Homo sapiens: one gene and its partner. The main gene of each other region encodes a partner of the protein of the gene in region 2 in a complex. Links are inferred from orthologs where the notes say so. Each region holds a gene or a part of one and is shown on either strand. Other genes may lie near its edges. The genes, in order: MAPK14 and TAB1.

Region 1 (15,251 bases), on a different chromosome or scaffold from region 2:
GCCAAGATGGCACCACTGCACTCAAGCCTGGGCGACAGAGTGAGACTTCGTCTCAAAGAAAAGAAAAACTTCAAATAACTACGCTGAATCTCTGAATAAGATAACACTTAATTGTAAATCTAAATTCTGGTATTTTCATTCCAACATTAGTTATAATTTGTTTATTGTCAATTGTCATACAATTTCAGTTTCAGTTGTATTTTCTTTCACCAATATGCTGTAGGTTACATCTTAAATCCCTTTAGTAGAAAGACTACTAAACAAACAAGCAAATAAAAAAAACTGCCTCTCTGGAAAGACACAAGACACTTAACAGTGCCTGTCTTTGAGAGAGTAGAGTGGCTGGAGAACAAAAAGGAAAGGAGACTTTTCACTGAATATCTTTTTTTTTTTTTTTTTTGAGACGGCGTCTCGCACTTTCGCCCAGGCTGGAGTGCAGTGGAGCGATCTCAGCTCATTGCAACCTCCGCCTCCCGGGTTCAAATCATCCTCCTGCCTCAGCCTCCTGAGTAGCTGGGAGTACAGGCGCCCGCCACCACGGGCGGCTAATTTTTTGTATTTTTAGTAGAGACGGGGTTTCACCGTGTTAGCCAGGATGGTCTCGATCTCCTGACGCTGTGATCCACCCGCCTCGGCCTCCCAAAGTGCTGGGATTACAGGCGTGAGCCACTGCACCCGGCCCACTGAGTACCTTTGTAAAACTTTCAAATTTTATACAATGTCAATGTATTTTAAAAAATCTGTTCAATAAAATAAAAGTACTTTTAAGTGTCAGATACTGCTGGCTTCTATACCACAGAAAAGTATACCACTAAAGAACTGTGGAGTTAATTTTAATGGTACTTCACTGTAAATCTGAATCTCCTGTTCCAGTGCAGAGCTAGTCACCAATAGTAGCGAACCCTTGCAAGCAATTCAATTGGAGTTCACCCAAACCCTCTATAGTTGAGTTATTCTGCTGTATCACTCCATTAAAATTTAAATAGCATTGAAAACGAAAACGTGATACTACAGAAATGTATGTCAATTCAAGAATGAAAAAATGGAAGTATATTAATGAGCTATAAAATATTAAAAGAGCAATGATCCAAATACGTCTTTGAAAATTAGCAAATCAACTAGATATATATAATATGTATATACTGAATGTATATACCTATATAATATGTATATACTGAATGTATATACCTATATAATATGTATATACTGAATGTAAAATGCTGCAAACCAACTACACACACACACTCTCTGAATGTAAAATGCTGCAAATTCCTTTAAAATGTAAACTGCCATGCTGTAAAAATGGGAGAAAGATGTCAAGCACGGTGCTATCTGCAACATAACTTAAGCAACTTGAACTAGAAAATGCAATATGATCTGTTGCTGGACACAATTGCACAATCTCAATTACCCAGAAGATTCTACCAAACAGGAAATTCATGATGTGACTTTGGGAAACACAGAAATCATATTTAAAGATTAACACATCCAAAAGCCTGGAATTTGTTCCAAAACAAAAAAACGATTTTACAGGCCCGTTTTCAAATGACGCATACAATACGAATTACTAAAACACAGAAAAAGCTAACAGTTAAATCTGATACTTAGTTTAAGATCCGTAGCTTTCAAATTATAGAAAATCTAAAATACAGGGTATAAAACCTTGGAAGTTAAGAGAGCAGTTAGTGAAATATTTCAGGTCTGGAAATTATATGCTATCGACTTAATTTAAAACACACTCACGGTGTAAATTAAAGCTAAAAAGTATCTCTTCCCTTCCTTTTCTATGTGGTTCCATATCCTTACGAAAACCATCGTGTACCTCAGGCCATAAATGCAGATAACTAGATAACTCCCTGCAAGCTCTCTAAGGGACTTTTAAAACACAGTATTCGCAGGAATTATCTCAAAAAATATTTACAATACCTCCCAGCACTGTTAATAACTTTTTGATCTTGAGGGCGCCTTACAGATCTGAATCTTTCTTGCTCCAAATGAGAAAATTGTTTTGTCGAACAATACTTAAATGAGCAGTGGTATGTGACTAATCAGTGAGCCTGCCAGTTTCTCAAGCTGCAGTGTTCTTGCAGGCACTACCACCGCCGCCCCTCCACGGAAAGGAAATACGCTTTCAACCGAATCGGAAACACACCACTCAAGCTGGCACAGTGCTCACCGAGATAAAGTCGGTATTTTAAGCTCTATGGATCGCTGTTAATTCAAGTGCGAATTCAAAAAGAACGCTTTTCAAGATGGGATTTCGACAGAGTTTTGAAAAAAAAAAAAAAAAAAAAAGGCCCGGAGAGAGCTCCCTTCCTGGTCAGTTTTGTTCAGATGACCGCAGTCTTCGGGTTGGGCTGTGCCCTTCTGCTTCTCCCGGCAGTTCCCCGAGCTTGTCTGCTCAGAGGACCCAGGGTCCGGAGCCCCAGCGTGGGCGCATCACGGGAGAGGGTCCTTCTGCTCCAGGTAGGCAGGGAGACCCCCAAGGAAGCGGCCCTTCCCCCGGTGCCTGTTGCCGAGCAGCAACCCTCCGAGAGGGGAAGGCGCAGGGTGCTAGCCAGAACCGAGCTCCAGCACCACCACCTACCTCTCGCAGCGGACCTGAGTGCTGCACACGGTGGACCGCATACCTGCGTGAGTGCAGGGCGAGGGGTGCTGGAGGTGCAGAACGGGCAGAGCTCGAAGGGGCAGCAATGCCCTCCCCCGAGGAAAATTCCTGCCACTTGACGCAACGCTGAGCAGTGGAGCAGGCCTGGCCCTCGGGCGCGAGGGGCCACCCTGCCCACAGCGGCCCCAGGCCCAGCGACACTCACCACACAGAGCCATAGGCGCCAGAGCCCACTGGAGACAGGTTCTGGTAACGCTCGGGCACCTCCCAGATTGTCTTGTTCAGCTCCTGCCGGTAGAACGTGGGCCTCTCCTGAGACATTTTCCAGCGGCAGCCGCCGGGCAAGAAGGTGGCCCTGTGGGGCCCCCGCCTGCACCCGCACCCTCTCCCCGGCCCTTGCTGCCCGCCCAGCCGGGCGGGGACCTTGCGCTGGTCGCCCGCGCAGGTGCGGCTGCCGCGACCCCGCAGACTCCCGCGCGCGCGGCTGCTGTCAGCCGCAGCGGCTGGATGTGCCCCTGCGACTGGGGCAAGCCCCGCTAAGGGCAGGGACGCGCTCCGGCGCTCAAGACTGCGCCCGCCGCGATCTCCCTGCACCTTCGCCCCTACAAGGCCGACTCCGGGCTGCGTCGCAGTACTCCCGTTCCAGCTGCTGCGCCCGCTAAGGCTCCAGTGGTCGCGGTTCCAAGAGCCAGCAAACGGGAGCCTCCCGCAGTACTCTCGCGAGAACAGCTCCCGGGACTCTCCGAGAGCCGAGATTTTACCCAATATGGAACCTCTCCGCGGGCGGGGCTTCGTGAGAGAAGAGGATGGGAGGAGCAGTTCTCGCGAGAAGAGAACAATAACTGGAGACCAAAGGCAGAAACTCCCAGGGACTGTCTCCTTAAGGGCGCGAAGGCGGACCGGGGAAGGAAGAGAGAAGCTGGCAGCACACGCCTCGCGCGCCTCACCGTGGCCGGCGGGGCAAATACCTGGCTCTGTGGTGGAAAACGACACTGACAAATAGCGTGTCGGGGAAAGAGTCAAAAGATCTTTAACTGCGAGTAGTTACCAGCAGCAGAGCACCTGCTCACCTGAACCCCCAAATTCCAAAAAACACTTGCATAAAAAAGAGACAAGTGGCCGGGCGTGGTGGCTCACGCCTGTAATCCCAGCACTTTGGGAGGCCGAGGCGGGCGGATCACCTGAGGTCGGGAGTTCGAGACCAGCCTGACCAACATGGAGAAACCCCGTCTCTACTAAAAATGCAAAATTAACCGGGCGTAGTGGCGCGCACCTGGAGTCTTAGCTATTCGGGAGGCTGAGGCAGGAGAATCGCTTGAACCCGGGAGGCGGAGTTGCGGTGAGCCGAGATCGTGCCATTACACTCCAGCCTGGGCAACAAGAGCGAAACTCCGTCTCAAAAGAAAGAAAGAAAGAAAGAGACAGGTTCCGGCCAGAAGGCTGTTGCATTCCCATCTGCTCAAGGACATATGGGTTACTCTTTGAGATGCTGACGAAATATGTCCCAAAGGCAAATGTTAACCCTGCATCAAAGCTGAGGCTTTCCAGGGGCTGGGCTCAGTGGCTCACACCTGTTATCCCAGCACTTTGGGAGGCCGAGGCGGGTGGATCACGAGGTCAAGCGATAGAGACCATCCTGGCCAACATGGTGAAACCTCGTCTCTACTAAAAAAAATACAAAAATTAGCTGGGCGTGGTGGCACGACCCTGTAGTCCCAGCTTCTCGGGAGGCTGAGGCAGGAGAATTGCATGAATCCAGGAGGCGGAGGTTGCAGTGAGCTAAAATCGCGCCACTGCACTCCAGCCTGGCGTCAGAGGGAGACTCCGTCTCAAAAACAAAAACAAAAACAAAAACAAACCGAAGCTTTACATTAAAACTCTCCCAGTTAAACTTACATGCAGAAAAATCACCCTGGGAGTTTAAGATGCAAGTTCCCAGAACTCACAGGGAGTCTAATTGGGTAGGTCAGAGGAGGTCTTGATCAAGAGCATGCATTTTTATAATACATCTTAGGTGATTCTGATTCAGGAAAGTCTCTGATATCTCCCTTTGAGAAGCATTTAAAAAACCGTTACACTGAAGATTTGAAACTGACTCCTATCCTGAAGAGCCATCAGTGAAGAGGATTTTAAGCATTTAACTCAGGCCTCTTCGAGTAAGGAGAATAGGGCAGGAGTCTCATCGAATTTAGGCAAGTCAACTGACCTTTCCTGAACCTCAGTTCCAGCTTCTACGAGAGAATTCCTGCCCTGCATTCCCGACTAACAGAGTCATTTGTAAAAACCAAACAAGATAAATGTGAATGGGCAAGGCATTCTAACCCCATGCCTACATCCATTATCAACCTATGCCTATGCTAAAGCTTGTTACAATGAGCAGAAGAATCAGATCCTGTCTCATTCTCTTAGTTTCTTGTATTAGAAATAACTAGATCCAAGCCAGGACATTTCTCAACATTTCCCGTGATTATTCTATTTTGTGTCATACACACCTTGGAGGGCTCAGACTTTGCATATCTTGTCCCAACATCTAGCACAATGTCTAGAACATAAAACATGTGTCATAAATATTTGTTGAAAAAATTATGAACAGTGACCATGATTTCAAGTGGTACAGTATCCTCAGTCCTCTTCAAGGAAAGCAATATAAAACCAAAAAACAGATAGTCATGGGTGATTCATGGAAAGCTGTTTTGGATCCAATGTAGCTTAGGCTGGAATTCTCTTATCTACAAAAACATGTTGCTTGAGAATGTTCCAAACTAGGGAGGATAGGAAGCTTTCTAAGAAGTAATGGAGGGTGAAGGGGAAGTAAGAGCAAAAACATGATTGTGAAGACATGAGGGATGGGGTTGGGGGGATCAAGGGAATGAGGGAATGGTTACAAAGGGTGAGGAGGAAGCTTGGAAGTAGGAATCCTCAGAAATGCACATTTTTATCCTACAAATTGGGATGATGAGGTGAGGGTGAATGAAAGGGTAAAGATAAAGTAAGCAGTATATTCATACACTCATTCAACCAATGTGTATTAAATGCCTACTAGGTGTCAAACACTTGCAGTTTAAAAGTGATTAAAAACTACAGTTGCTGCCGGTGTGGAGCTTACAATCAATGGGAGGGCAATCATTCAACAAAAATTAATTGAATACTTCCTATGTCCACCACACTGCTGTAGGCACTGATAATAAAACAGTTAATGAAAGGGATAAAAGTCCTTGCCCTCATAGGGGTAAGATGATTTACAAAAAGGAATACATAAAGTGCATTATAAGGTAGACATTAACACAGTCATCAAACAAACAAGTGTAAAACTGTAACTGGGCCAAGCAGGAATACAAGGTGGAGTGAGAGACAGTGCTAGGGACAGGGATAGGGTGGGAGGAGGGTAAAGGGAGTGAGTGCAGATGGCATGTCTGCATCCAGAGCAGATCTGGGCAGGAGGGTGTCATTCAGTGGGGAGAGCCGGGTTTGTGGGGCAGACAGCCTATGGTTGGAGACCTGGGTGACCCTCCTAGCCTCCATTTCTTTTTACCTCTTCTGACCTGAGGAAGGCTTAAGTCTTCCGGAGACGTTAGTGAATTACCGTCTGTGCAGTACACATGTGACACATGTGCACTGCTGTATGTTCAGGACACGAGGCCTGGCACCAAATAGGCCCTCGATCAAGAATAGCAAAACCTCGGAGAGAGAAGGAGCCTTGGTATACAGGTTTACCAAATACCAAGGGGATCCCACGACTCAGGTATGAGGAGGGCGACCCAGGTACCACTTTCCTGGCTCCCTAGCCCAGCTGCTCATGCTCCTCTTCCTCGTCCCCTCCCCCACTCTCATCTCCTCAGCCCGCCCGGAACGCCCGCGGGCTAGGCCACAACGGCTCGGGAACCGCCGCCGGTATCCGCGTCCGCAGCGCCGCCAGCCAGGCGAGAGCCGTGTGGGATCCCAGCGCCCGCACTCCCGCCCCCGCCAAGGAGCCAGGTGAGCCGCTGCTGGGAGACGCCTGGGCGCCGGGGGCTGCAGGTCCCAGGGCGGGGGCTGCGTCCGTCACCGGCAGGTACCCAGGTATGCCGCAGAGCCAGGCACGCCGTGGGCACTCAGTCAGTATCTGTGGAATGAATGAATGATGGTCGTCCCTGGGAGCTTATCTCTGAGGTATTGTCTCTACTTTCAAAGGCCGTGTGGATGGCAATGACAAGAGACAACAGTGTGTGCGTTTTGCAAGCTGCATCCTTTCAAATTCTCCTGTCTATATTGTCAAAAGCCCCAGAACTGACGTGCTACCTGCACCCCACCGCCTACCCCATCCATTTCCTCCTGAGGCCTGACTGCCCGGCCGTTCCTCTTCCTTTCAGACCCCACTGCTTTTGTTAATTTTGTTCCCTGTGACTGAATCCCCACCCCCACCTCCTTGCCCCTTTCTTTTCATGTCAAATGCCGTTGATGTGTCAGGGGCCCCGTGAAGCCTTCTCCAGCACCCCCACCCCAATAATGAGCATCTCTCCAACACACCATGTTACTCTATCCACATTGCATGGAAGGTGGTTGTCCTATGTTTATGTGTCCAATGGTCATCCGCTTAAGGACTGTCATCTTACTAGTCATCCCTAGCCACTAGCCAGAGTGACTAAAGGATCTAAAGGCCAGGCTCTTTGCTTATACCTTTTCTGTATTCCCAATACATTCTCCATAAAAACCTAGGTAGTAACAGGTGTAGGGTTGTTTCTGATGGAATTACAAATGCTTATTTTGAAAATTCGGAAGTAAATTTTGCCTTTCCGTGATTATAGAAAACATAAGAAAGTTAACAATATCAGGGGGAAGATATTCCTGCAACTAAACTAGCTTTCAAGATTTCATATTATTTGGGTCAATAGCTAAAAAATTGGATTGTATTTAAACTTTTTATTCTTGACTTTTTTTTTTTTTTTTTTTTTTGAGACAGAGTCTTGCTCTGTCGCCCAGGCTGGAATGCAGTGGTTTGATCTCGGTTCACTGCAACCTCTGCCTCCTAGGTTCAAGCGATTCTCCTGCCTCACCCTCCTGAGTAGCCAGGACTACAGGCACGCCATCATGCTCGGCTAATTTTTGTATTTTTATTAGAGACGGGGTTTCACCATGTTGGCCAGGCTGGTCTTGAACTCCTGACCTCAGCTGATCCAACCGCCTTGGCCTTCCAAAGTGCTGGGATTACAGGCATGAGCCACTGAGCCATGTCTGGCCTATTCTTTACTTTTAAAGCACTCTGAACACAGATAATGTAAATAATTAGATAAATGGATGGATGGATGGATGGATGGATGGATGGATGGATGGATGGATAAGGGTACTATGGAGGGTGAAAGAGCTAGGCCAAAAGTGCTTGTATTTTAACAGGGCCCCCAAATTTAGCACTGAAAGGCTCATGAAAGATAATCCACTATATTTATAGTGGTAGTCATACTTTAATTTTTATCAGAATCACCTGGACAGCTTCTTTGCTTTTTTTCTACCTAGCAAGACCTACTGAATCAGAATCTCTGGGGGCCCAGCAGTCTGGACAGCTTCTTAAAACAGACTGATGGCCCCCAGAGTTTCTGATTCAGTAGGTCTTGCTAAGTGGGGCCTACTCAACAGTAGGAGTTTCTGGTCATTGCATCTTCTTGGGAAGTGTCCTGCTAGTACATGAAAATGAGCCACTAGGATTTCTATGAAATCAAGAAAGACATAATGGAGCTGGAGAAATTCCAAAGAAAATTACTTAAAAAAAATAATAAGGAAACCATGCGTTTACCCTTGCTGCTGTTAGCCAGACATTTGATGGAGTTCCTTAAAGACAACTTTCCACCTGCTCCTCCTAGCCATCCTCACTGTGGTCGTAGGAGTTTATGACTTGATAACATCTCCTAGACTAATATTAATGGTCTCCAATTGGCTGTTTTGCCTCAGTCTCTCCTATCTCCACTGTCCAACAACTTTTTGTGATGATGGAAATTTTTTATATCTGCATATCTGCACTGTCCAGTAAGGTAACCACTAGCCATATGTGGCTGTTGAGCACTTGAAATCTAGCTAGTATAATTGAGGATCTGAATTTTTTATTTTAAGTTTAAATAGCCACATGTAGCCAGTGGCTACCATACTGGACAACTCAGCTCTAGAACATAACACTGGCACATTTCATCTTCCCAAAATGCATCTCTGTGCGTATTACTACTTCTGCTGAAAGACTTTAAATAGGCCAGGCGCAGTGGCTCACGCCTGTAATCCCAGCAATTTGGGAGGCCGAGGCGGGAGGATCACCTGAGGTAGGGAATTCAAGACCAGCCTGGCCAACATGGCGAAACCCTGTCTCCACCAAAAATACAAAAATTAGCCAGATGTGGTGGCACATGCCTGTAATCCCAGCTACTCAGGAGGCAAGGCAGGAGAATCGCTTGAACCTGGGAGGTGGAGGTTGCAGTGAGCTAAGATCGCGCCACTGAACTCCAGCCTGGGTGACAGAGCTGTACTCCATCTCCAAAAAAATAAAAAATAGGCCGGGCGCGGTGGCTCACGCGTGTAATCCCAGCACTTTGGGAGGCCGAGGGAGGCAGATCACGAGGTCAGGAGATCAAGACCATCCTGGCTAACACCGTGAAACCCTGTGAGCTGAGATCACGCCACTGCACTCCAGCCTGGGCGACAGAGCGAGACTCTATATCAAAAAATAAAATAAAATAATATACATATATATTTATATGTATACGTAAACATATGTAAAGTAATTGACAACATTTAAAAGCCAGAAGATTCCACATAAAAATCTGGCATTATGGCTTCTCCTGGAAAAGATCAGATCTAAGCCATTCCGGGCCCCACATTGACCGATGGCAAAAATGGCTAGAGCTAAGCAGCTTCTGCTGCCTTTGCCAGCCCCACTGTTCCCACCACTCCTTGACGGTCATATTTTGCCTATTTTACACCAATCCTCCTTTAATGTCACTTTCAGAACAAAATGCTGGGTTCTAGACTCTCGATGTGACCCAGGATATCAGTTTTGTCATTAGCAGACTAATTAGGCTTGTTTAGGTTGCTGGGAACAAAGAGACTACTCATGGAAGTACATTGGACAATTATACGGGGAAAGTAAGGAAGATTGGGTCTGTATTCCTATGGGTGGGGAAAGAAAGGTGGGGGGGGATTCCTTACATTTCAATATACAGTTCTACCTTTTTTTCTTTTTGTAAGAGACATGAGGCACTAATTATCTTAAGTAATATATTGTAAAATACCTCTCCCATCCTCTTCTGTATTCCCCAGTCACCTCACTGGTTTAGAGAATTTGTGATCTTTAGTTCATGGTTGTTATACAGCATATTACTTCTACCCAATGCTTTGAGGGTAAAAATACAATATATAATTATGGCCCAATTACTTACATTTTCTAAAATCTTGGTTTTACACCTGTAAAATGAAAGAAATAGTAGTACTGGTATTGTTGTGGAAATTTAATGACATAACTCGTGAAGAAATCTAGTGCAATGCATGGCATAGGATAAATGCCCAATAAATGTTGGCAATGATGATGATGATGATTCTTCTGAAGGAAAACAAAGTTGCTGACACATTAAACTTATCTGCAGCATCACCCATCATCTATATAATTGTGTAATCTATATAATTTGAGGGTTTACCAATATATTTTATAGGTATGTGGTTTATACATATGCTTTTTTACATTTATGTGGAAGAATTTTAGAGTTTATGCTTTTTTTATTGTTCAAAAACATAGATTATTAAGACTGGTTATACTTTCTCCCAGAGATGGATCCCTATCCATCCTCATTTACTCTATCTTTTCAATCTTTTAAAAAAGCAGGATAATATAGATTTTTTTTTCTTTTAGAGACAGGGTCTCGCTCTGACACCCAGGCTGGAGTACAGTGGTGCGATCCCAGCTCACTGCAACCTCCACCTGCTGGGCTCAGGTGATCCTCCCACCTCAGCCTCCTGAGCAGCTAGGACTACATGCCATGCCATCATGCCCAGCTAATTTTGTTTCTATTTTTAGTAGAGACAGGGTTTCACCATGTTGCCTAGTCTAGTCTTGAACTTCTATAGCTTTTTCTGCTACACCATGAGGCCACTAACTGTATACTTGGCAGTCATTCAAGAAACACTTGTTAAGGGCCTGCTAAGTTGCTAAGTGAAAGCCATTCTTTTGGGTCCTGGGGCTGCAACTGTGAATAGTCACAGTCCTGCTTCCTGGTCTTACATTTTATGGGGGAAACAGACAATGGACAAACAGACAAATAATGAATCAGGTGCTGGCAAGTGCCGTGAAGAAAAGTAAAAGGTAAAGGGATAATGATGTCTGCTATTTTAGAGGAGTTACAAGACTTGTATTGAGCACTTAACCCTTCATCTGGACTTCTTCATATATGCTGGATAGTGAGCATTTTCAGTGAAAATTGTTGATTAATACTGTCCACCTCTTGATCATTTTCCTACAACATAACACAACTGAATATAAAGAAAACTAGGCCTCCCAGCAGGACACCTGGGTTCTAGTCCTGGCTCTAATAAGTATCAAACAGCAAAGACTGTTTAAACTTCTGGGTTTTGTTGTCTCCATTTGAAAAATGAAAAGAATACACATAAAATTATACAACTTTGAGAAAGAGTTTTTTACAACTGAAAGATGCTATGCAAGTGTAAAACATTATTATATAGGAATTTTATTTCCTTAAAAATATGCCGAGGATCTGGATTACTGAAAATGCTCTTTTATTTGCTCTCTTTCCACTCATCCAGGAATGGCACAACTAGAGAGGAGCGCCATCTCTGGCTTCAGCTCTAAGTCCAGGCGAAACTCATTCGCATATGATGTTAAGCGTGAAGTATACAATGAGGAGACCTTTCAACAGGAACACAAAAGGAAGGCCTCCTCTTCTGGGAACATGAACATCAACATCACCACCTTCAGACACCACGTCCAGTGCCGGTGCGTGTGTCCAATCTTTCACCTGCTGCCGAGCCGGGCAGGACTGAAACCTAACCTGACTCCTTTGGGGTCCGTTTCTCTTTCTTGTCTGAGTTCCTGTAATCAGAATCATGCAGTTTATTGTGCAATTTTTCTTCAGTCATTTTTGTGGTTTGTCTTGCAGTACCTTTTCGATTGTAAACTTCCTGGGCATAAAGATCTTGGATGTCCCTATGGTACCTAAGGAGGATATTTCATAATTCCATTGTTCAATCAACCATGACTACCAGACTCCCGACCAAAAATAAGATAGCCAGCAAGACGCAATGGCTCACGCCCGTAATCCCAGCACTTCAGGAGGCCAAGGCAGGCAGATCACTTGAGTCCAGGAATTTGAGACCAACCTGGGCAACATGGTGAAACCCCGTCTCTACTAAAAATACAAAAATTAGCTGGGCGTGGTGGCACGTGCTGTAATTCCAGCTGCTCAAGAGGCTGAGGCATGAGAATTGCTTGAACCTGGGAGGCGGAGGTTGTAGTGGGTCGAGATTGTGCCACTACACTCTAGCCTGGGCAACAGAGCAAGTCTCTGTCTCAAAAAAAATAAATAAATAAGATAGCCATGGTGGACTGATTAATGGTAGGGGAATGAGATTCTTCTAGTCTCATATCCAACAGTGCCCACATGGTGGTACTCATGGTCACTAAGGTAGAATCTACCACCACCACCTCTGATACCCGCTGTGACTAGCTAGGTCCTACAGTTCAGGGGCTCTTACCCTGTTTTTGTGCTTTGAACCTTCTAGCAGTCTGATAAAGTTAATCAACATCTTTCAGAATAATTTTTTAAATGTTTTTTATTGTGGTGAAATATGTATAACATAAAATTGGCTATTTTGACCATTTTTAAATATACAATTCAGTGGCATGATTGACATTCGCAATGTTGTGAAACCATCACCGCTATTTCCAAAACTTTTTCATCACCTCAAACAGAAATTCTGTTAAGCAATAATTCCCTATTTCCCCACCCCTCAGCCCAAGTAACCTCTCTTCTGCTTTCTGTCTCTATGAATTTGCCTATTCTAGCTATTTCACTTAAGTAGAATCATACAATATGTTTGTCTTTTTGTGTCTGACTTCTTTCACTTAGCATAATGTTTTCAAGATTCATCCATATTGTAGCATGTATTAGAACTTCATTTCATTTTATGGCTGAATAATATTCCATTGTATTTATATACCACATTTTTGTTTATCCATTCGTTAACAGACATTTGAGTTGTTTCTACCGCCATTAGGCTACTGTAAATAATGCTGCCATGAACATTGGCACAGGAGATCTGTTTGAAGTCCTATAACTAGGACTAGAATTGTTGAATCACATCATAAATCTGTGGTAAATTTAACTTTTTAAGGAACTGCCAAACTGTTTTCCACAGTAGCTGCACCACTTTACATTTTCACTGGCAATGTACAATTTTTCCATGTGCTCTCCAACATTTGTTATTTTCCATTTTTTTAAATTATAGCCAACCTATTAGGTATGAAATGATATCTCATCGTGGTTTTTTGTTTTTGCTTTTGTTCTGCATTTTCCTGATGACTAAAGGTGATGAGTATCTTTTGGTGTGTTTATTGGTTAATTGTATATCTTCTTTGGAGAAATGTCTATTCATTTCCTTTGTCCTTTGTAAAATTAGGTTGTTTGTCTTTTTGTTGTTGAGTTATAGGAGTTCTTCATGTATTCTGGATATTAAATTTCTATCAGATAGATGTTTGTAAATCTTATATAATTTTGTAAATATTTTCTCCCATTCTGCAGGTTGTCTTTTCACTCTGTTGATACAGTGTCCTTTGATGTAGAAAAGTTTTTTGGTGTTTTGTTTTGTTTTGTTTTGTTTTGTTGAGACGGAATTTCACTCTTGTTGCCCAGGCTGGAGTGCGATGGCATGATCTCTGCTCACTGCAGCCCCTGCCTCCCAGGTTCGAGCAATTCTCCTGCCTCAGCCTCCTGAGTAGTGGGGACTACAGGCAGGTGCCACCACGCCCAGCTAATTTTTGTATTTTTAATAGAGGTGGGGTTTCACCATGTTGGCCAGGCTGGTTTTGAACTCCTGACCTCAGGTGATCCACCTGCCTCGGCCTCCCAAAGTGCTGGGATTACAGACGTGAGCCACCGCACCTGATGTAGAAGAGTTTTTAATTTTGATGAAATCCAATTTATCTGTATTTTCTTTTGTTGCCTGGACTTTTGGTGCCATATTTAAGAAACTTGTCAAATTCAAGATCATACAAGATCATGCATCTTTTCTTTTCTTTTCTTTTCTCCTTCCTTCCTTCCATTCTTCTTTCCTTCTTTCTTTCTTTTTGAGGCAAAGTCTCACTGTCACCCAGGCTACCATGCAGTGGCACAATCTCCGCTCACTGCAACCTCCACCTCCCAAGTTCAAGCGATTCTCCTGCCTCATCTCCCGAGTATCTGGGATTACAGGTGTGCGCCACCACACCCAGCTAATTTTTGCATTTTTAGTAGAGACGGGGTTTCATCAAATTGGTCAGGCTGGTCTCAAATTCCTGACCTCAAGTGATCCGCTTGCTTTGGCCTCACAAAGTGCTGGGATTACAGGCATGAGCCACCGCTCTGGGCCAAGATCATGCATATTTTCATCTATGTTTCCTTCTATGAATTTTATAGTTTTAGCTTTTAAATTTAGGTCTTTGATCCTTTTTGAATTAATGTTTGTATATAGTGTAAGGTAAAGGTCCAGCTTTATTCTTTTACATGTAGATATTCTGTTTTCCCAGGACAATTAGTTGAAGAGATTGTCTTCACCTAGTAAACGGTCTTGGTTGAATAATTTTTTAATGCATAAAATAAGCAGGATTATAAGGAAAACCAGTTACATTGAAATACAGTTATCTAAATATCAAAAATACCAAAATTGTGTTATTTAATAACATGGGTCTAATAACTACCATAATTTCAAAGTAGTGATGAATGTAACTAATATTTCAAGATCTCTTTAGCAATTGTAATGTAATATAGAAATGTTTGTCATTTCTACTGGTGACAAAGTCAAGTTCTGCTGATACTACTGTGTTTTGTTGCCAACATTCATAATTGAAGGAAATGCTAAAGAGGTTAGTGAAATAAAGATATAAGTTCACCTATATAATTTCACATATGTCCCCAAATACTATCTACAGACTCCTTGGGGGTCCACAAACCTCAGGTTAAGAACCCTGGCCGGGTGCAGTGGCTCACACCTGTAATCCCAGCACTTTGGGAGGCTGAGGTGGGCGGATCACTGAGGTCAGGAGTTTGAGACCATCCTGGCCAACGTGGTGAAACCCCTTCTCCACTAAAAATACAAAAATTAGCTGGGCTTGGTGGCGCACAGCTGTAGTCCCAGCTACCCGAGAGGCTGAGGCAGGAGAATCGCTTGAATCCGGGAGGCAGAGGTTGCAGTGAGCCGAGATCACGCCACTGCACTCCAGCCTGGTGACAGAATGAGACTCTGTCTCAAAAAGAAAAAAAAAAAACAAAGAATCCTTTGTGACCTACATCATTATAGTAATCTTAATTACTCAAGTTGTCCTCAGTCACACTCTGAATTTATTAGTCCTTCTTGTCCCCTGGTTTATCACCCACAATTGGCACATGTTGGTATGTTGGCATGTTGGTGACAAGTGTGGAAAGTC
Region 2 (15,387 bases):
GGGCTGGGTGAGGTAGCTCACACCTATAATCCCAGCACTTTGGGAGACTGAAGTGGGTGGATCAATGAGGCCAGAAGTTTGAGGACAACGTCTCTACAAAAAATACAAAAATTAACCAGGCATGGTGGCCTGAACCTGTGGTCCCAGCTACTTGGGAGGCTGAGTGGAGAGGATCTCTTGAGCCCAAGAAGTTGAGGGTGCAGTGAGCCATGATCACCACCACTGCAATCCAGCCTGGGTGACAGAGTGAGACCCTTTCTCAAAAAAAAAAAAAAGTTATAATGTAATGGATTGGCCTTCATTGGACTTAAGGGAAATCATTAAACCCTGCAAGGGTTTTAACTGACTCAGGACAATTTGGAGAAATATGAAAACTATTTCAAAGAAATGCTAGGTTTCAGAATCAGGGCTGCTGCATGATTTGTAGGGCCCAGTACAAAATGAAAGTGCAGGGCCTCTTGTTCAAAAAGCAATATTAAAAAATAGTGTAATTTTTGACCGGGTGCAGTGGCTCTCGCCTGTAATCCCAGCACTCTGGGAGACTGTGGCGGGCAGATCACTTGAGACCCAGAGTTCGAGACGAGCCTGGCCAACATGACAAAACCCCATCTCTACAAAAAATACCAAAAAAAAAAAATTAGCCCAGCATGGTGGCATGTGCCTGTAATTCCAGCTACTTGGGAGGCTGAGGCAGGAGAATCGCCTGGACCCGGGAGGTGGAGGTTTCAGTGAGCCGAGATCACGCCACTACACTCCAGCCTGGGTGACAGAGAGAGACTCCGTCTCAAAAAAATAATAATAATAAATAGAAATAGAAATAAAAATACTAAAATATAAAGCACTTTACTTACAAAATATTACATATAAAATATAATAGGAGTAAGAGTAACACATGAGTAACAGCATAAATTTAAGATTATAAAAAATAATATTTTGGGGTTGGGCGAGGTGGTTCACGCCTGTAATCCCAGCATTTTGAGAGGCTGAGATGGGTGGATCACCTGAGGTATGGAGTTCAAGACAAGCCTGGCCAACATGGTGAAACCCCATCTCTACTAAAAATACAAAAATTAGCTGGGTGGTGGCGGGCACCTGTAATCCCAGCTACTGGAGAGGGTGAGGCAGGAGAATCGCTTGAACCTGGGAGGCAGAGGTCGCAGTGAACCGAGATCATGCCGTTGCACTCCAGCTTGGGCGACAAAAGCGAGATTCCCACTCAAATAATAATAATAATAATAATAATAATAATAATAATAGGCCAGGCGTGGTGGCTCACGCCTGTAATCTCAGCACTTTGGGAGGCCAAGGTGGGCGGATTGCCTGAGGTCAGGAGTTCGAGACCAGCCTGACCAACGTGGTGAAACCTCCTCTCTACTAAAAATACAAAAAAAAAAAAAAATTAACTGAGCTTGGTGGTGTGTGCCTGTAATCCCAGCTACTCGGGAGGCTGAGGCAGGGGAACTGCTTGAACCAGGGAGGTGGGGGTTGCAGTGAGCCGAGATCGCGCCACTGCACTCCAGCCTGGGTGACAGGATGAGACTCCCTCTCAAAAAATAAAAAATAAAATAGTAATAATAATATTTTGGTGTCATTTTATATAATACAAAAATAATGCCTTACTAATATGATTTCTTGATTGGTCATATGATTTTTTGGCTCATTCTTTTTGCAAGTTCATTTATTATGTTATTGAAATTTATACTTATGACAACTTCATTTTCCATTGAAAGCTACAACAGCCACTTTTGGCAAAGGCAAGATTACAAATAATTTCTTATACTTTTTATTTTGAGAAGGCTCCTTCTGCCAAGGCAATTGTTGCTGTAGCTGCTGAGAGTATTTTATATGCTGTCACAGTAGGAGAAATTCATGATTTTAAAGAATTTTTAAAAAAATATTTAGCTCTTCATATTGGCCAGGCGCGGTGGCTCACACCTGTAATCCCAGCACTTTGGGAAACCGGGGCATGTGGATCACCTGAGGCCAGGAGTTCCAGACCAGCCTGGCCAACATGGTGAAACTCTGTCTCTATTAAAAATACAAAAATTACCCAGGCCTGGTGGTGCGCACCTGTAATCCCAGCTACTCAGGAGACTGAGGCAGGAGAATCTCTTGAACCCAGGAGGCAGAGGTTGCAGTGAGCCAAGATTGCGCCACTGCACTCCAGCCTGGGCGACAGAGTGAGACTCCGTTTCAAGAAAAAAAATTTAACTATTCATATAAATCAGTTTCATATGTGTCTGATTTAATTTTAAATGTAAACTTATACAACGATGTTTTAATGTTTTCTTTGACATTTTCTATAACTTGTGAAGGTTGTACAAGAAACTGAAAGTTACTTCATGATTTCTATATAATTTTAATGATCTGTTTATGCATTTGATTGCTGGGTCTTCAATAACAAGGAAAACTTAGCTTTAAAACTGCCTTCAGAGTAAGCTTCACATAAAATAGAATTATTTTCTGTAGAATATGATGATCTATACATTTAATTTTTATTTCTAAGACTGTGGATATTTGCAATATTGCAGCAGGCTTTTTTGTTTGTTTGTTTTTGTTTGTTTGTTTGTTGAGACTGAATCTTGCTCTGTTGTCCAGGCTAGAGTGAAATGACATGATGTCGCCTCCCTGCAACCTCCACCTCCCAGGTTTAAGCAATTCTCATGCCTCAGCCTCCCATGTACTGGGATTACAGGCATGAGCCACTGTGCCTGGCCTGCAGCAATTTTCAAAACCAGAGATTCTTTTTCTTTTCCTAGCATCCCCATGGATGCCAGGGCGAAAACCGAAAATTCTAAAACTCTTTGAAGAATCCTAACAGCTCCCTAGCGTGCTTTATTGCGACATCCATGTGTATGTTTCCATGTTGTAATAACTTACTGACAAGGTTTACTGCCTGACTGCTGGCAGTACCTGTCCCAGCATTTAGGCTGTGAGCTATATTTGTGCAGATGTTACAGGCACGGGCTGTTCCATGTGGAGTCTCTTCTCCCACCATGGAGCCCGTGATGGCATGGAGCCGTGACACCCCCACCAGTTTCTTCTGCTGCTGCCACCAATCTGGGCACAGATCCTGGCCCCCACTGTCCCCACACAGCCCCACAGTGTCGCAAACTGTCCAGCCATGTGGGTGCACACAGGGTGGCCAGGCCAATTGCTAGGCAGCTCTGCTGCCCACCGCCTGTCATCCTTGCTGGTCTGAGCCTGCTGGTGCATATGCTTCTTTGTCCCACTGGACTTCCTTTATAAAACACAAGTTCAAATATAAAATGATGAAGAATTTCAAGATGGCGAAATTCAAACAGAAATCAATGCAGAGCATTCAACCAAATGCTAGGTCTATTCTGAGAGCAGGGCAATGTGCGACTGTACGGGTCCCATGCCCATGAGTGCAGTCCTGCTCAGCACACTGATTCTGGCCCCTCTCCATCTCCCCTTTATTTTATTCTGAATCTTTTTTCTTCTCCTTTTAGTCTCCTTGTCAATTAGATAGCTACACTTGACTATGGGCCTGAGCTATGCTGCGTACTTTGTAAAGCATTGTCTAGTTCACTTCTTTTCTTTTTTCTTTCCTTTTTTTTTTTTTTTTTTTGAAATGGAGTCTTGCTCTGTCACCCAGGCTGGAGTGCAGTGGCGCAATCTTGGCTCACTGCAAGCTCCGCCTCCCAGTTCACGCCATTCTCCTGCCTCAGCCTCCCAAGTAGCTGGGACTACAGGCGCCCTCCACCACACCCGGCTAATTTAGTTTTTGTATTTTTAGTAGAGACGGGGTTTCACCGTGTTAGCCAGGATGGTCTCGATCTCCTGACCTTGTGATCCGCCCACCTCGGCCTCCCAAAGTGCTGGGATGACAGGCGTGAGCTACTGCTCCCAGCCTCCTTTTCTTTTCTTTACTTTTCTTTTTTTTTTTTTTTTGGTCGTTGTTGTTGTTGTTGTTTTGAGACAGAGTCTCGCTCTGTCACCCAGGCTGGAGTACAATGGCGCAATCCAGGCTGGAGTGCAGTGGCACAGTCTCAGCTCACTGCAACCTCCGCCTCCCAGGTTCAAACGATTCTCCTGCCTCAGCCTCCCAAGTAGCTGGGATTACAGGCATGCGCCACCACGCCCAGCTAATTTTTGTATTTTTAGTAGAGACAGGGTTTTGCCATGTTGGCCAGGCTGGTTTCGAACTCCTGACCTCAGGTGATCCGCCCCCCTCGGCCTCCCAAAGTGCTGGGATGACAGGCGTGAGCCACCGCGCCCGGCCTTGTTCACTTCTTTCAACACCTGTGATAGGGGCACTAAGATGCTCCCATTTTACAGATGAGGAGCTGGGCCAGGGAGGAGAAGTGGCCCAGCACAGTTATACCGGTGCAGGGCCTGACTTGACCAGTAGTGAGTCCAGCTTTAAAACCCATGGTCTTAGCCTCTTTGCTGCCTTTTGTTAAACTATTTTTATACATTTGCGGTCACTCACATAATCCTTAAAGCTGTTTTTGATGTGAAAGTTCCCCGAGCTGTGCATGCTTCTGGATCAGCAAAGGCTTCGGCTTTGGTTACCCATCTGTTCTCTGTGCTTATCCAGCGCTGGGGTCTTCCCAAACCCTGTCCCAATTATGTGACCTAGAAATGCGACTTCAAATGTTTGAGAGATCTCATACAAAATTGAATGTGCTTTTCCTCAAGGTTTTTCAAAAGTTACATTGCTGGACGGGATGACTTACTTCTGTAATCCTAGCACTTTGGGAGGCCGAGATGGGCAGATCGCTTGAACTCGGGAGGTAGAGCTTGCAGGAAGCCAACATCACAGCACTGCACTCCAGCCTGGGTGACAGAGTGAGACCCTGTCTCAAAAAAAAAAAAAAAAAAAAAAAAAAGTTACATCAATTGAACAGTAGCAGGGATTGTGCCCTCAGTGTCAATGTGGAGGACTCCCAGGTTCATCCTCCGTCCACACTTGCTTCATTGGTGGCTCATCTGGTCTCACAGCTTTAAATATCCGCTGTATTCTGACCATTCTCAAGTGTGTACACCCACCCCCCCAGGTCAGCTACTCGTATATCCAACTGCCTTTACTCCGACATATCTGGTTGACATCTCCCATGAAGACCCCAGGGATCTGCCTTGCTACTTCTCTCATCCCATAGCTTGCCACCCTCCCCCGTGCTTCAGCCACGCTGGCCTCCTTGCTGTTCCTAGAACATACCTAGCACATTCCTGCCTCAGGGCCTTTGCACTTGCTGTTGCCTTTGCCTGAAATGCTCTCCCTGCTCCACCCCAGATCTCTGGAGGAGACCTGAAACCTTTGCAGTGGGTTCATCCCTGGTCATGCCTTTTAAAAAGGCACCCCCGACCAGGCACAGTGGCTTATATTTGTTTTTGTTTTTGTTTTGAGACGGAGTCTTGCTCTGTCGCCCAGGCTGGAGCGCAGTGGCAGGATCTCGGCTCACTGCAAGCTCCACCTCCCAGGTTCACGCCATTCTCCTGCCTCAGCCTCCCGAGTAGCTGGGACTACAGGCGCCCGCCACCATGCCCGGCTAATTTTTTGTATTTTTTAGTAGAGACGGGGTTTCGCTGTGTTAGACAGGATGGTCTCAATCTCCCGACCTCGTGATCCACCCACCTCGGCCTCCCAAAGTGCTGGGATTACAGGCGTGAGCCACCACGCCCAGCCAAGTGGCTCATATTTGTAATCCTAGCACTTTGGGAGGCCGAGGCAGTCAGATCAGTTGAGCCCGGGAGTTTGAGACCCGCCCGGGCAACATCGCAAAACCCTGTCTCTACAAAAAACAAAATGGAAAATTAGCCAGGTGTTGTGGCACACCTGTAGTCCCAGCTACTCGGGAGACTGAAGCAGGAAAATCACCTGAGCCTGGGAGGTCGAGGCTTCAGTGAGCTGTGGTTGCGTCACTGCACTCCAGCCTGGGTGACAGAGTGAGACCCTGTCTCAAAAAAAAATAAATAAATAAAGTAGCCGGGTGTGGTGTTGTGTGCATGTAATCCCAGCTACTCGGGAGGCTGAGGCAGGAGACTCACTTGAACCCAGGAGGTGGAGGTTGCGGTGAGCCGAGATCATGCCATTGCACTCCAGCCTGGACGACAAGAGCAAAACTCCATCTCAAAAAAAAAAAAAAAAAGGCAGCCCACCTCCACTTTGTTTTCCTCCATAGCACTTGTCACCACCTGACATACTTACTAGTTTATTTATTACCTATCTCTCCTCACCGAATGTGGAAGTCTCATAAGGGCAGTGTTCTTGTCCCTGCTTACCTGGCATGTACTAAGTGCTCTATTGAGGATTGTTGAATTAACGCATGAATCTTCCCACCAAATCTCCTCCTTTCTCTGTGCTCATCATCTAAGTAAAAGGCACCATCATCTACCAGTCATCCCCCTGGGTATTATCCCAGATTTGTCCCTCTTTTCAAAAACCCAAGCATACGCCAGATCTTGTTGACTTAACATCCTAAATATTTCTCAAACCATCCCTTCTGTCACTGCCTTGGTTCTCCTCTTCCATAGCAGATGCCTCAAATGCATAGAGTAACATGCTGCTTTGCACACTGTGAATGTTTCAGCATCCTCTCTGCCCCCTGCGCTCTCTGTCTACCTGCCAGGCCCAGACCTGGCCCTCCTCTAGTGGCCCTGTCTCGGCAGATCCTCCACCACTGGGCCGACGGCCTGGGCCAGGAACCTGGGAGTCATCTTCCACTCCCCTTTCTTCCGCTTCCAATCAACTGCCAGAGTCTTTCTACTTGACCTATTTGGATATTTTTGAAAACTGTCCATTTCTTTTATCCTCATGGCCACCATCCTGGTCCCGGCCACCTCCTTCCTTCTCTTATCTGGGTTATCCCAGCAGGCTCCTAATACTGGTCTCCCTGCTTCCTGTCTGACTCAGTGGGATCCCTCTGAAACACAAATATGATCATGTGACTCTCCCACTTAAATGAGTCCCTACCCTTACAAGATAAAGCCAATTGCTTCTGTTGCACCCATATCCCTCCCTGATTTGTTCTCCTCAGCTCGGCCACAGTCAATTTCTGCCTTTGCCAGTTCCCCCCTCACTTTGACCATGCGATCCCTTGGCCTGAGATGCGCTTTCTATCTTCTCTGCTCAATCCCTCTGCCCTCCCAGACCCAGCTGGAAGGTCACCTCCCCTGTGAAGTCTTCCCTGACTCCCCCAGCAGAATTAACTGCCCCCTCTCTTGGGCTTCTGGCTCCACTCAGTTTGTCACAGGCCTGATGAGCAAGGATATCTTGATAAAGGTGATAACTGGCCGAAAAGCAGTTGGGGCGCCCAATGGCGCAGCCTTCAGAAGCACCTTCTGTGTTTTTGGAACTGTTGGCAGCATCCCAAGGTGAAATGGTAGAAGCATATGGCATGATCATGGGGAAATGGGTCTGGGGAAGGGAAGAGAAGCCACATATTTGGAGCAGATTCTGTTCCTGTTCTAAAGGCTTGGAAGATGTTACTTTATTGAATCCTTGTAACATCCCTGGGAGGCAGGGGTTTTAAAAACAAAGACAGTGGTGGCCGGGCGCGGTGGCTCATGCCTGTAATCCCAGCACTTTGGGAGGCCAAGCAGGGAGAATCTTTTTTTTTTTTTTTTTTTTTTTTTGAGACAGAGTCTAACTCTGTTGCTAGGCTGGAGTGCACTGGCGTGATCTCGGCTCACTGCAACCTCCGCCTCCTAGGTTCAAGCAATTCTCCTGCCTCGGCCTCCCGAGTAGCTGTGATTATAGCCACACACTGCCATGTCCATCTAATTTTTTTTTTTTTTGAGACAGAGTCTCACTCTGTCGCCCAGGCTGGAGTACGGTGGCGCGATCTTGGCTCACTGCAACCTCCGCCTCCCGGGTTCAAGCGATTCTCCTGCCTCAGCCTCCCAAGTAGCTGAGACTATAGGCACATGCCACCACACCCGGCTAATTTTTTGTATTTTTAGTAGAGACGAGGTTTCACCATGTTGGCCAAGATGGTCTTGATCTCCTGACCTCGTGATCCACCCACCTCGGCCTCCCAAAGTGCTGGGATTACAGGCATGAGCCACCGCGCCCAGCTCGGGAGGATCTTTTGAGCTCAGGCGTTTGACACCAGCCTGGGCAACATGGTGATAGCCTGTCTCTACAAGAATACAAAAATTAGCCGGGCGCAGTGGCACATGCTGTAGTCCCAGCTACCCGGGAGACTGAGGTGGGAGAATCACTTGAGCCCAGAAGCTTGAGGCTGCAATGAGCCATGATTGTGCCACCGCACTCCAGCCTGGACAACACAGTGAGAACCTGTTTTTTTTTTTTTTTTAAATGGTGGGGGTCAGGGAGAGATGGCTTGCAAATGAATGTTTGTTTAATTTTATAAAAAGCAGGCAGGTGCCAGGTGCAATGGCTCACGCCTGTAATCTCGGCACTTTGGGAGGCGAAGGCAGGTGGATCACCTGAGGTCGGGAGTTCAAGACCAGCCTGACCAACATGGAGAAACCCCATCGCTACTAAAAATACAAAATTAGCCAGACGTGGTGGCGCATGCCTGTAATCCCAGCTACTTGGGAGGTTGAGGCAGGAGAATCGCTTGAACCTGGGAGTCAAACATCTCTCTACCAATGGGACCCTGTCAATGGCTTGCTTAGAAGGCAACAACTTCCCTCTGTCCTCCAGATGAATAAACTCCTGCCTGGGGCCCACTTGGTCAGAGCCTGTCCCTACAACCCCTTCATCTCTCTCCTCCAACTCTGTGCAAGCCACAGTGGGCTCCCGTGACAAGTGTGCTTTTTTTTTTTTTTTTTTTAAGACAGAGTCTCACTCTGTTGCCCAGGTTGGAGTGCAGTGGAGTGATCTCAGCTCACTCACTGCAACCTCCACCTCCCAGGTTCGTGATTCTCCTGCTTCAGCCTCCCAAGTAGCTGGGATTACAGGCGTGCACCACCATGCCTGGCTAATTTTTTGTAGTTTTAGTAGAGATGGGGTTTCACCATGTTGGCTGGACTGATCTCGAACTCCTGACCTCAGGTGATCCACCGGCCTCGGCCTCCCAAAGTGCTGGGATTACAGGCATGAGCCACCGCGCCTGCCCCCGGCAGAATGTCTTATATACATAAATGTTGTCCTCTCCAATTAAAATGTTAACATTTTAGGTTGGGCGGGGTGGCTCACACTTGTAATCCCAGCACTTTGGGAGGCCCAGGCAGAAGAATCGTTTTAGGCCAGGAGTTTGAGACCAGCCTGGCCAACATAGCGGTACTCCGTCTCTACAAAAAATGTAAAAGATTAGCTGGGCGTGGTGGCGGGCGCCTGTAACCCCAGCTACTCGGGAGGCTGAGGCAGGAGAATCGCTTCAACCCGGGAGGCAGAGGTTGCAGTGAGTCCAGATCACGCCACTGCATTCCAGCCTGGGCGACAGAGCAAGCCTCCGTCTCAAAAATAACATAACATAACATAACATAAAATAATAATAAAATGAAATGAAATAAAATAAAATAAAATGTTAGCTTTTTGAAGGCCTGTCCTGCTCGCTGCAGAACCCACTATAGAGCCAAGCAGGGTCACCTAGGTAGCATTTGCTGAGTGAATGAATTGTCCTCCCCTTACCAACTGTGTTCACAAAGAACCCTCAGGAGTTCAAGACCAGCCTGGCCAACATGGCGAAACCCCGTTTCTACTAAAAATACAAAAATTAGCCGGGCGTGGTGGCTCATGCCTGTAGTCCCGGCTACTCCGGAGGCTGGGGCAGGAGAGGCGGGCACCTGTAATCCCAGCTACTCGGGAAGCTGAGGAAGGAGAATCGCTTGAGGCCGGAAGGCAGAGGTTGCAGGGAGCTGTGATCGCGCCACTGCACTCCAGCCTGGGTGACAGAGTGAGACCCTATCTCAAAAAATAATAAAGATGGGCGAGGAGCAATCGGCCCCGAGGAAAAGACAAAACAAAACAACAACAACAACAACAACAACAAAACGTGCAAGAGCGCGCCTGCGCACACGGTCCGCTACGACCCCCATCCCTCTTCGGGCGTGGGGTGGCGCTGGGCGCATGCTCCCCGGCAGCGCGGTCATCCTCGCCTCCTTCGGGCCGCTCTAGCCGCCCCACTCGCTGCTCTGCGGGGAGGCGGGCGCTCCCGCAGGGGTTCCTCCAAGATGGCGGCGCAGAGGAGGAGCTTGCTGCAGAGTGTGAGGAACAGGCCCGCTCTCTGGGCTTGGGGTTGGGAGCCTGGGCGGGGGTGCTGTCGGGTGCAGGAACGGCTCCTTCTCCGAGTTTGGACAGCCACCCTCTCCGTGGTGGGGTGTGTCAGCCACCTTCTCCTCTCCTCGGGCTGGCCCCCTCGTTCCCGAGGCCAGGGCGTGTGTGCGCGGCGGGCCCGGCCCCCGGGTCAAGGGCGCCGGGGCTGTGGGCTGCTGCTGCCGGGCGTCGAGGGCGGGAGCGTCCTGGAGCCAGAAGGGAACACGGCGGGCGGCAGCAGAGCTATCCGAGTCTCGAGCCCACTGCGACACCGAGCAGACGTGCAATGATAATAACAGCAGCATCCACAGTGTACCGCTTACTGCATCCCCGGCGTTGTGTTAATTGCTTTACATTTGTCAGTTTCATTTTCGTAGCAGCCCCCTGAGATAGGTGCTACTGTTATTCCTATTTGACAGACTGAGACACTGAGGTGGTCGTTTGCCTAAGGCCACACAAATGGTACGTATTGAGGCAGGATTAAAATCAGGCAGTGTGATTCCAGAAACCCCCTTAACCCCTGGGCTGTACTAAAGGAATGACCAGTGGTAGCTGTCACTGGGTTCTGGTCCTGGCTCTGACTGTGTCTCCCTCAGCCTCAGTTTCCTTCTCCTAAGGCGAGAGCGCTGAGTGGAAGAATTGTCTTCAGACTCATCCCTACCCCCGGTCTGGACCCTCATGGGTTTGGCGCTGTCTTCCAGGCCCTGCGTCCTCTGACGCGTATGTGCACATAGATGCACACACATGTTGGCACCATGGACTACTCTGACCTACCAGGGTAGGGTGCTGGCCTCCTGGGTCCTTCCTATGCATGGCACTGTTAGAATTGTCTATGGACTTGTCTGCCTCCTGTACTAGAAAGTAAACTCCGCCGGGCGCGGTGGCTCATGCCTGTAATCCCAGAACTATGGGAGGCTGAGGCGGGTGGATCACGAGGTCAGGAGATCAAGACCATCCTGGCCAACATGGTGAAACCCCGTCTTTACTAAAAATACAAAAATTAGCCGAGCGTGGTGGGGGCGCCTGTAGTCCCAACTATTCGGGAGGCTGAGGCAGGAGAATTAGCTTGAACACAGGAGGCGGAGCTTGCAGCGAGCCAAGATCGGGCCACTGCACTCCAGCCTGGAGCGACAGAGCGAGACTGTGTCTCAAAAAAAAAAAAAAAAAAAAAACGAAAGTAAACTCCTTGAGGACAGGGACCTGTGATCTCTTGTTTACCGCTGTGTCTCTATTATCTATCACCATGTGCTGGGCACTCAATAAATACATTTGTGAAAGGATGAGTAAAGGTTTGTAGCCAGGTCCAGTGCTCGCCCTTGGCGTCACAGAGGTGAGTAGACATTGGCTCAGGGATAACCTGGAACCAGAGCCTTGAAATTATTCTCCCAGGAGCACAGTTCCCAGGCCTCCCCAGTGGGGATTGCTGTCTTCCCCTCCACACCTTTACTACTCCTTTATTTTATTACTGCTGGGCACGTCTGTCTTGTTACCGAGTTGGCATTGATTTTAGACGGCTGGCCCTCTGCTTTGTAAGTTCCCAGAGGGCAAGGTCCCTGTATAACTGTCCCCACTCTAGTTAGCATTTGGGAAACGCTGGTTGGATTGTGACATTGGGAGGGAAAATTGTAAATGGTGCAGGCTGAGTTGGCTTGCTGAGAAGAGAGCAGCCACCTGGGTCATGTAGAGTAGGTGGCTGCCAGCTTCTCCCCTTCCTAGATGTGATGGAACCAAAGGGAATTGTGTTAGGCAGAAGGCCAGCTCTACTAGCCCCAGAATGTGTTTCTCCAGGTGGTGGTGGCCTTTTTTAAAGCAAGAATAGTTAGCTTTAAACACATTGCATCTTGGTGCGTGGCAAAGGGATGGCAGGGATGTCATCAGAAGGCCCCTCCGCCCTCATGATGATCAGGACATCCCTCTCACAGGTTGTATGGATGTCCAGGTGGTGTGTAGGGCTTGCTGATGTCACATCCACTGTCTCAAGTCTGGGGAGAACAACTCAGCTCAGACACCTGCATTCAGAGATGGCTGTGAGGGCTGCTGGTCTGTGGCTACTGGGCAAATATGAATGAGGCGTGGTGCCCACCCTCACTGCGTTTGTAGATCAGCTTGGGAGGAGCATATGCCACTGATACAATACCTGGGGCACTGTCTTGTTATTGTAGACCTGTGTCAAGAGCCCTGGGCAGACAGCAGAGAATTTTAGAGGCTTTAAAGGATGAGAGGAGTTTGCCAAGCAGAGGAGAGGAGGGCCATTCCAGGAGGATGTGTATGTGTGTTTTCTTGACACGTGTGTTTTTGTTTTCATTTTTCTTCCTAGAGATGGGGTTTCGCCATGTTGCCCAGGCTGGTCTAGAATCCTGGGTTCAAGCAATCCTCCTGCCTTCGCCTCCCAAAGTGCTGGGATTACAGGCATGAGCCACCGCATCTGGCTAAGGACAGGTGTTTAAATATGTGTGCATGTGTTTGTTAAGCTTTTCACAAGTTAAGTACAATTAGTACTACAAGTCTATGTGTTGAGGGGCTGCAGAGTGGCCTGATTGGTCTGGGTCAGTGGAGGTTTGCAGGAATGGCATTTGCAAGGGTATGCTGGGGCCACTTGGTAGATCACTTGGTGGGAGCATCATTGCAGGCACTGTGGTACCTTGAAAGGTCTTTTGAAGCAAAAAGCTTTTTTGTGGGTGTATGGGGAAGACAGGATCTCACTGTCACCCAGACTGGAGTGAAGCGGTGTGATCTCGGCTCACTGCAACCTCTGCTTCGTGGGTTCAAGTGATTCTTGTGCCTCAGCCTCCCAAGTAGCTGGGATTACAGGTGTGCACCACCACACCAGCTAACTTTCATATTTTTAGTAGAGACAGGGTTTCACCACGTTGCCTAGGCTGGTCATGAACTCCTGGCCTCAAGCAATCCGCCTGCCTGGGCCTCCCAAAGTGCTAGGATTACAGGTGTGAGCCACTGTGCCCGGCCACAAAGAGGTTCTAAGGAGAGCTTGATGTGTTCAAAAGGACCCAGACCTTTCAGCCGGATAAAACAGTGTTAGTCTCATACTGGCTTTGGGCAAATCACTTTATGTCCCTGAGCCTTAGTTTCTCCAAACCAAGAGGACTCTGGGGAGTATTGTTGGTGTTAAAGGAACTGACACATTCCACTACTAGCCTGGCTTGGTTGCCCGCTAACCAGAAACTTCTACCTTCAGTGCTGCCGTGAGTGAATGCTGTTCATTCCCTTAAATGTCCCTGAGCACTCACTATGTGCTAGGCACCCTGCAGGTGCAGGAGACACCGCCTTTGTGGAGCTGATGGTCTAGTAAAGGGGACAGACAGTGAGCACCGAACAGATACAGATCATCTGTGATTTTGTAATATCCAAACTACAGCATCAGGTGGTGCTATGAGGAACAGTCTAGATTCACACACAGAATGTTGGGGGTGCCATTTTGGACAGGGTGGTAAGGGAAGACTTCTCCACATTTGATGAGATGAAAACGGGGAAATGGGGGCAGCATTCCTGCCCAAGGGAGCAGGAGATGCAAAGGCTGCTGTTTCAGGAGCCTCAGGGGTGCTGGTGCAGCTGGGTGGAGTGCCTTGGGGGAGCTTGGGAGTAGCTGAGGTCTGAGGGAGCCGGGGGCCATGCTGGGCTTCACAGGTCCTGATGTGGCCTCTGGATTCCATTCTTCATGTGATGTGAAGCTTTCATGGGGAGCAGATTGAGTAGGGACCTGATGTGATGTGACTTTTGATTGGAGAAAAATCCCTCTTTTTTTTTTTTTTTTGAGACGGAGTCTCGCTCTGTTGCCCAGGCTGGAGTGCAGTGGCGCAATCTCAGCTCACTGCAAGCTCCGCCTCCCAGGTTCACGCCATTCTCCTGCCTCAGCCTCCCAAGTAGCTGGGACTACAGGCACCCACCACCACACCCAGCTAACTTTTTGTATTTTTTTTTTTAGTAGAGACGGGGTTTCACCGTGTTAGCCAGGATGGTCTCGATCTCCTGACCTCGTGATCTGCCAGCCTCGGCCTCCCAAAGTGCTGGGATTACAGGCGTGAGCCACCGTGCCCGGCCGAAAAATCCCTCTTTTGAGTTTGAGTGGTGAGAGTGGAAGCCTGGGACCTCCTAAGAGACTCCTAGAGTCATCCAGGTGCGAGAAGGTGTCTTGGCCATGGGGATGGCAGAAGAATGGTGGGAAGTATCAGATTCCAGTTGTGTTTTGGAGGAAGAGCTCATGTGATTTGCTGATGGATTGAATGTGAGGTGTGTGACAGAGGAAGAAGAGTCAAAAAGGACTCTTAAGGTTTTGGTTTAAACAACAGTGGTGCCATTTACGGGGTGAGGGAGCCCTGGAAGAGGGGCACCCTGGGGCAGGGGGAATCAAGAGTTTGATTTTGCCTGTACTGTTACTTAATTATAAAAAAGAAAATCAGGCTAGGCATGGTGGCTCATGCCTGGAATCCCAGCCCTTTGGGAGGCTGAGGCAGGAGGATCACTTGAGGCCAGGAGTTCCAGATCAGCTCGGGCAACATAGTGAGATTCAGTCTTTAAAAAAATTAGTGAGGCATGGTGGTATGTGCCTGTAGTACTTAGGAGACTTAATGGGGTGATTGCCTGAGCCCAGAAGTTTGAGGTTGTAGTGAGGCTATGATCCCCTCACTGCACTCCAGGCTGGGTGACACAGCAAGACCTGTTTAAAAAAAAAAAAAGAAAGTAAGCTTAAAATCAATTTTTTAAACTTCGACATGTCCTGAGCAATTATATCTGAGATCATAGGTGCTGCTATCTGTGTAATTTATCTAAAGGATGTTAAAATAAATACATAGCCACTAAAATAAAAAGGTCCATGGGGGTACCACCTATACCCATTGCATACACCCAGCTGCTGCCCTAGCACATTGGAAGTGCCAACAATGATTATTAGCCCCTTTAAGAATGAATGAGGAGCTCTTTAGGATGACGACATGGAGAACCTTCAATGAAAACTCCGGTGGGAGAAGTGGGGGCCAGGAGTGGAGCTGGTCTCAGAGAAGTGGGTCATCCGGAAGGTTGGAGGTGGTGGGGGCATTGGGGCCTTGGAAGCTTTTTGGAGAGAAAGGTCTGCTGCTCCCCTGCTCCGAGCCCTCTTCCTGGGGTTGTGAGTCTCCCTTTCTGAGCTTCCTTTTTGCTTCTAAGGAATGTGGGTGCTTTTACCACAAAAACACTTGGCC

What was found.
Region 1: the proteins of TAB1 (region 2) and MAPK14 are in contact, whole or in part, in a crystal structure (PDB 4LOP), measured with the Mus musculus proteins. The link is inferred for Homo sapiens from one-to-one orthologs. Residues at the interface, in NP_079885.2 of Mus musculus: Val385, Tyr386, Pro387, Val388, Ser389, Val390, Pro391, Tyr392, Leu405, Ser406, Leu407, Val408, Met409, Pro410; in NP_036081.1 of Mus musculus: Gly110, Ala111, Asn115, Ile116, Cys119, Gln120, Lys121, Leu122, Thr123, Asp124, Asp125, His126, Phe129, Val158, Asn159, Glu160, Asp161, Cys162, Leu217, Thr218, Gly219, Arg220, Thr221, Leu222, Asn272, Val273, Phe274, Ile275, Gly276, Ala277.

The regions. Positions count from the first base shown.
Region 1 is NC_000006.12:36,015,836-36,031,086, reverse strand, and holds the start of MAPK14 (mitogen-activated protein kinase 14), read right to left. Parts: upstream 3,280-15,251; 5' UTR 2,930-3,279; coding exon 2,814-2,929; coding exon of another isoform or gene 2,588-2,813; intron 2,274-2,587; exon of another isoform or gene 2,177-2,273; intron 2,000-2,176; exon of another isoform or gene 1,927-1,999; intron 1-1,926. Other genes in the region: SLC26A8 (testis anion transporter 1), read left to right, coding at 11,380-11,567. UniProt on the Homo sapiens protein: Serine/threonine kinase which acts as an essential component of the MAP kinase signal transduction pathway.
Region 2 is NC_000022.11:39,389,693-39,405,079, forward strand, and holds the start of TAB1 (TGF-beta-activated kinase 1 and MAP3K7-binding protein 1), read left to right. Parts: upstream 1-10,087; 5' UTR 10,088-10,110; coding exon 10,111-10,143; intron 10,144-15,387. UniProt on the Homo sapiens protein: Key adapter protein that plays an essential role in JNK and NF-kappa-B activation and proinflammatory cytokines production in response to stimulation with TLRs and cytokines.